Regions from separate parts of the Homo sapiens genome. Here region 1 is linked to region 2. Evidence: fine-mapped expression QTL. A gene starts in region 2. The other region holds a variant in brackets. All regions are shown on one strand. Distances are from middle to middle. Region 1 has its middle 6.2 kb from the start of ZNF706. Region 2 holds the start of ZNNT1 (ZNF706 neighboring transcript 1).

Evidence for each region. PIP is the estimated chance that this variant, and not a neighbour inherited with it, causes the effect. A credible set is the group of variants that fine-mapping cannot tell apart.
Region 1: its variant is the best candidate, but not a certain one, in a credible set for the expression of ZNNT1 in whole blood (TOPMed, PIP 0.72).

What each region holds. Positions count from the first base shown.
Region 1 is chr8:101,210,399-101,213,325 of GRCh38, reverse strand. No RefSeq gene overlaps it. Among named protein-coding and RNA genes, the nearest start is that of ZNF706, 6.2 kb to the right of the region's middle. The variant T/C (reference allele first, on the strand shown) is at 1,394.
Region 2 is chr8:101,168,784-101,171,710 of GRCh38, reverse strand. It overlaps ZNNT1 (ZNF706 neighboring transcript 1), which reads left to right and starts at 1,472. Exons shown (of 1, transcript NR_164368.1): 1 at 1,472-2,927.

The DNA.
Region 1 (2,927 bases), 42 kb before region 2:
ATCATCCACTTCCTTTACTCCCTCACTTTGGTGGCCCATATCCTTCAATAAGTTCAGTGAGGAAGGGTGACCAGGAGGTAAATAGTGTGATACCTTGTATATCTTTCTCTACTGTTTTCTAATTTTCAATATTGCTGTTGAGAAAACCAGTAACATTCTGGTTTTTAATTCTTCAATGAAACTAATTTATTTTTTCCTCTCTGGAAGCTTATAGGCTATCCCCTTTATTGCTAGTGTTCTGAAATTTCATTTAGATGTGCCTTGGTGTGGGTTTTACCCATCCAGTGTACTAGCACTCTTTGGGGGCCTTCAGCTGGCAATTCGGTTATTAATAGCTCTTTAAAAAATAATTTCCTCTTAGTTTTTCTGTTCTGGAATTTCTATTAGTTGAATATTGGGTCTCCTGAAATTACCCTTTAATTCTATTGTCTTTTCTTTCATATTTTCTAACTCTTTGTCTTTTCATTCTACAGTTGAACCATCAATGATACAAGGATTAGGGGCACCAATCTCCCCACAAAGTCAAAAACCTACATGTAACTTTTGACTCCCCAGAAACTTAACTACTAATAGCCTACCATTGACCTGAAGCCTTACTAATAATGTACATACTCAATGAACATATATCTTGTATATGTGTTATACAACTATTTTTTACAATACAGCAAACTAGAGAAAAGAATATTATTAATAAAATCGTAAGCAAGAGAAAATATATTTAATATTCATTAAGTGAAAGTGGATCATCATAAAGGTTTTTATCCTCATGATCTTCATATTAAGTAGGCTGAGATGGAGGAAAAAGAGCAGGGATTGATCTTGTTGTCTGAGGGATGGCAGACGCAGTAGGAAATCCACGTATAAGTGCACCCACACAGTTCAAACCCATGTTGTTCAAGAGCCAACTTTCTAGGATATTTTCTTAATTTTACCTTCCACCCTTTCTTGAGTTTCCATTTCTACTAGCAGATAGGTAGGTAGGTAGTTAGATAGACAGACAGACAGACAGACAGATGAGATAAACTTTTCCAGTATCTTTTTTGTAGTTGTTTTCTCTCATTGTTCCTTTATTTTAAAATAGCTTCCAGGACACACCATGTTATCATCTCTGTGAGTTCGTGTCCCTCTGATGGTTCTCTTGAAGTTTTCTTCTCCCAGCATAGTTTGTTTTCTCTTGCTTTTTTCTCTGCAACTTTGGGGACTCTGTGTTTCATATAAGAGGTTTTCCTCAAATGTTTGGTTATCCTTGGCTGTGTGCTCACATTTAAGAACAGGGCACTAGACATCTGATTGGAAGACTGATACATGCAGGTGCCACTTTTCAAACATGGGATTTGTTGCAGGATTACCTGGCTGTGCTGTCTTATTGGGCAATCCCAAGTATCAGTATCTT[T/C]AGGTATTTCCATTGAGTTGGGTTCTAATCCCCAAGAAAACTCTTTCAGTTTTCTGGCTGGAGGTATAAGATTGTCTGTTTCCATTCTCAGAGCTGAGATGGTGAAGTGTCTCTCAACATTCAACTTAAATTTTCATTTAGTCCTCTGTTTTGCTACCCCCACTCATGCTTGCTGCCCCTTCAGTCCAGAAACCCTCTTCTCTCCTAAATCAGTTACCACTTGTTTACTTACTTTGCAGCTTCCAAAATTCTGCTACATTCTTCTCTTCTGTTTTCTTTTCTTCAATGGTAAAGGAGTTTATGCTTTCTTATAAACTCCTTTACCATTATTTTTAGTGGGATTCCAACAAAGGGTAGAGGTAAATGCATGTGTTCAAGCCTCTATCTTTAACTGGATGGCAGGGGTAATCATTTTCAAATACTGGCCTCACGGATTGTCACTGATACTTGTAATTTCATTCACAATCCACTCTCTTATTTCATCCATTTACAGATACTTATTAACTACCTGCTAGGTGCCAGGCACTGTACTAGATGCTGGTTAACAAGACATAACTCAGGACCTGAGGGAGCTCATCTTCTATGGATAAACAGGCAAGTACAACACAGTGAGATAAGTGCTATTTTTAGGGAAGTACATCATAATCTGTGATACCTAGGAGGTCTCCTAACCGAGTTTAAAGGAATCATTCAGACTTACATTCATTCAACAAATATTTATTGGGTACCTACATCATGCCAGATGCTATGCTAAATACAGGCTACACAGGGATAAAAAGAACAGATACAGAACCACCCTTATAGTATACACAGGACCACGGCTCAGCCTCAGGAAAAAGACTGCCAGGAGCCAAATCTTAGCTTTTCTACTTACTAGCTGTGTAATCTTAGATAACTTAGCCATTTTGTACCTCAGCTACATAAGAGTTGTTGAGAAGGTTAAATGAATCAAAATATATAAAGCATATATAACAGTGCCTGGTAGATAGTAAGTACAGCACAGGTGTTACAGGTTATTGTTTTAGGAATCAAATGGAAAGGAGAAATTCTACAAATTTATATATATACACATATACATTATATATACACATATACATTATATATACATATATATGTAAAACATTTCATGAAACAATACATAATATTGCATGATAAATTCAAAGGATGAAAAGTACAAGGACTCCTCATTCAGATGGGGGCTCAAGGAAGGACCTCCTTTCACTTAGCATAACGTTTTCAAGGTTCATCCAAGTTGAGGCATGTATCAGAACCTCATTCCTTTTTATGGCCAAATAATATTTCATTTTATGGCCATACCACAGTTTCTCAGTTCATCACCTGCTGAATATTTGGGTTGTTTCTACTTTTTGGCTATTATGAATAATGCTGCTTAAAATGTACAAACTTTTGTGTGAACGTATGTTCTCATTGCTCTTGGATATATATCTAGGATTGGAATTGTTAGGTTATATGATGACTCTATGTTTATCTTTTGGAAAACCACCAGACTGTTTCTAAATTCTTCACCTCCTCT
Region 2 (2,927 bases):
TAATCTCTAGGTCTTATATTTTAGTTTCCTACCTGAAAATTTGTGATGCCACTTTTAATCTACGACGGTAAAGGAAAACAATTTCTCTTATATGCTATTTAAGAGTTAGGTATTTAAGATTAAAGGAACTATGTATAAATATCACTTATCCAGAAGTCTTCTGAATATTTCATTTCTCATGGAAATGCTGGATGTTTTTAAGCAACATTATCCATTATAAAACAATTCAAAAAGGGGGAAGAAAATCCTACAAAGATAACAAAAACTGTGAGGTTTTTTTTGTATGAAGTAGCCAATTTTCACAAAAAGTGCTGTTAGCGGTTTATAACACTGCTAGGAAATGTATTTTATATTAAAAATCGCTAACAGCACAGTCATTGTTTTCAAGATGCTTTAGAATGGGAAGAAATGTTCAATCTTTTTAACGTGTATCGGCATGTATAGGGTGTACTCTTTTAAAGAAAAATTTCAACTATTATAAAATCTAAGAAACTTTAAAACTGTGTCATTTATAATGTAAAATTAATGCAGCTGAGATTCAGTGGTTGACTCATAGCTCCCACATTCATCTTCAGTTCTCTTTAGCTCATATGGTTTTCTTTAAAAATTAGTGATATCAGCTAAATGGAACTATTTTCCACTCCTACCCACAGAGAAAAGTGCTTTTGTGAACATGTCAGCTCTGTTCCATCATTACATGCCATCATGCAGTGCAACAGAAGCAGGCTGGCTGTGCATACTTGATAACCAATATTAGTACAGATTTGAGAGCAAAATCCAAAGAAGATAATACTGTATTTCCATCTATTTATTTTATGCACATAAGCCACCTTTTTAGAACCAAGGAATTTTATAGCTAGACAAGATCTTGGAAGTCTTCCAATCTAGCCTCTTTATTTTGTACATATGGAAACTGAGGCACAAAGAGGTTCAGCAACTTCCCCAAGGTCACATAGCTGGTAGAGGTAGGCTGGGACTAGAACCCAGGTCTGTGTGACTCCAAAGTCTGTGCTCCTCCCACTATACTGCTTCACAGATAGGAGCTGATCTGCCTCAAATCTTCTGCCCCTTGGCCTTTCCACAACTCTGCATTGCTGCCATCTAACAGTGCCTTCCACTGGTGCCATGCTAAAGCTCGTTAGGAGGCAACTTAACATTGTTCTGTAAAAGCTCTACAGATGTAGGATGCTAGCTATCTGTTCTCCCCGGAAATCTTTTCAATTCAATTCTGCAAATAACTTAGGCTTTCCCAGACTAAGCAGTTCCTTCTCTCATTCCTGCAATTTGCTTTCCAGTTACCTTCTTCTGGACACATTCATTTCCAGTGCCCCTTCTGTTAAAATGGGCCCCACTAGAATCTCTGTTGCTGGGCACGGTGGCTCACGCCTGTAATCCCGGCACTTTGGGAGGCTGAGGCGGGTGGATCACCTGAGGTGGGGAGTTCAAGACCAGCCTGACCAACATGAAGAAACCCCATCTCTACTAAAAATACAAAATTAGGCAGACATGGTGGCACGTGCTTGTAATCCCACCTACTTGGGAGGCTAAGGCAGGAGAATCGCTTGAGCCCGGGAAGCTGAGGTTGTGGTGAGCCAAGATCGCTTCATTGCACTCTAGCCTGGACAACAAGAGCGAAACTCCGTCTCAAAAAGAAAAAAAAAATTGGCCCCACTCAAAATGGTACTCCTCCAAGTTGCTTTTTCATCCTTGTATTCCCCATGGTCATTCATCCCACTGCTGTCCTTCTGTCTCCAAGTCCTCTTTGCCTTGCTTCCTTCCCTCTCAACCCACAGCATCAGAGCAGTTTCTCCCCCAGCTGACCCTCTTTCCACTTTCAGTGCTCAATATTTTTTACTTTGCCTGTGGAAATGATCTCTTAACTGGTTTCCTTAAGTCCCTCCAGAAATGTTTTTCTAAACTCCAACAACTGTGCAAGGTCTAATTGCCATTGGTTTATCACCCACTGGACCCAGAAGCACCATCCTGGATTCTGCTTCTGCATACCCCTGTCAGCTCTGTGTCTTTAGGGACATCATTTAAACCTTCAGCTTCACTTTCTCCACTTATAGAATGAAGATGAGGAACAAGAACATCAATCTTTGAAATGATGCCAAGTATAAGCCTCTGTGTGTGTGTCTCCCCACTCCAATTTGTCCAACAGACTGCTTCCAAAGAAATCTTCCTAAAACACTGACCATCTTTTTTTTTTTTTTTTTTGGCTGCAAAATCTTTCATTTCCTCATCCCCTCACATAACTTCCAATCTTCTTGGCCTGGCACTAAGGACCTACTACAGACTGGCACTGAAATATCTTCCCTACCTTATCATTCCTTGTGCTTCTCCACAAGCCCACTCTTCCCCTTCATCATACATGTGCCGACCTTTCCTGTCTCTTTTACTTTGCAGCACCAAATGCTTTCTACTTTGTGGTCTAGGAGGAACACATGTCACTTTTGTAAGCTGCTCGAAAGCAGGGGCCACACCTTCATCCTTGTTTTCCACACAACACCAAGCACTTAGTAGACACCCAATAAATCATTGCTGAATGAATGTATTCAGCCTGGAATTGCACTAGGATTTTTTGGCCAACACATTGTATTCTTAACTGATACCAGACTTCCAATCAAATAAAATCCTTAAGCCTTTTTCATAGTCTTTAATTAAACTACTTCTCTTCCATTATTTCCCTTTGCCTACTTTTGAACTGATATTCAGAACTTTTCTGTTAATGTTTAATTTTCATCCATTATTCTTGTCTGTACAGATCTTTTTGATTTTTGACTCTCTTATCTAGTTTTTTTTTTTTTTTTTTGGCTTCCCGTTGTGTTATCCACAGGCACAATGGGTATATTGACTATCGTTCATTGAAGTTGTTGATACAAATGTTGAACAGGAGAAAAACCAGTAGCTTGCCAACTTGGCACCTC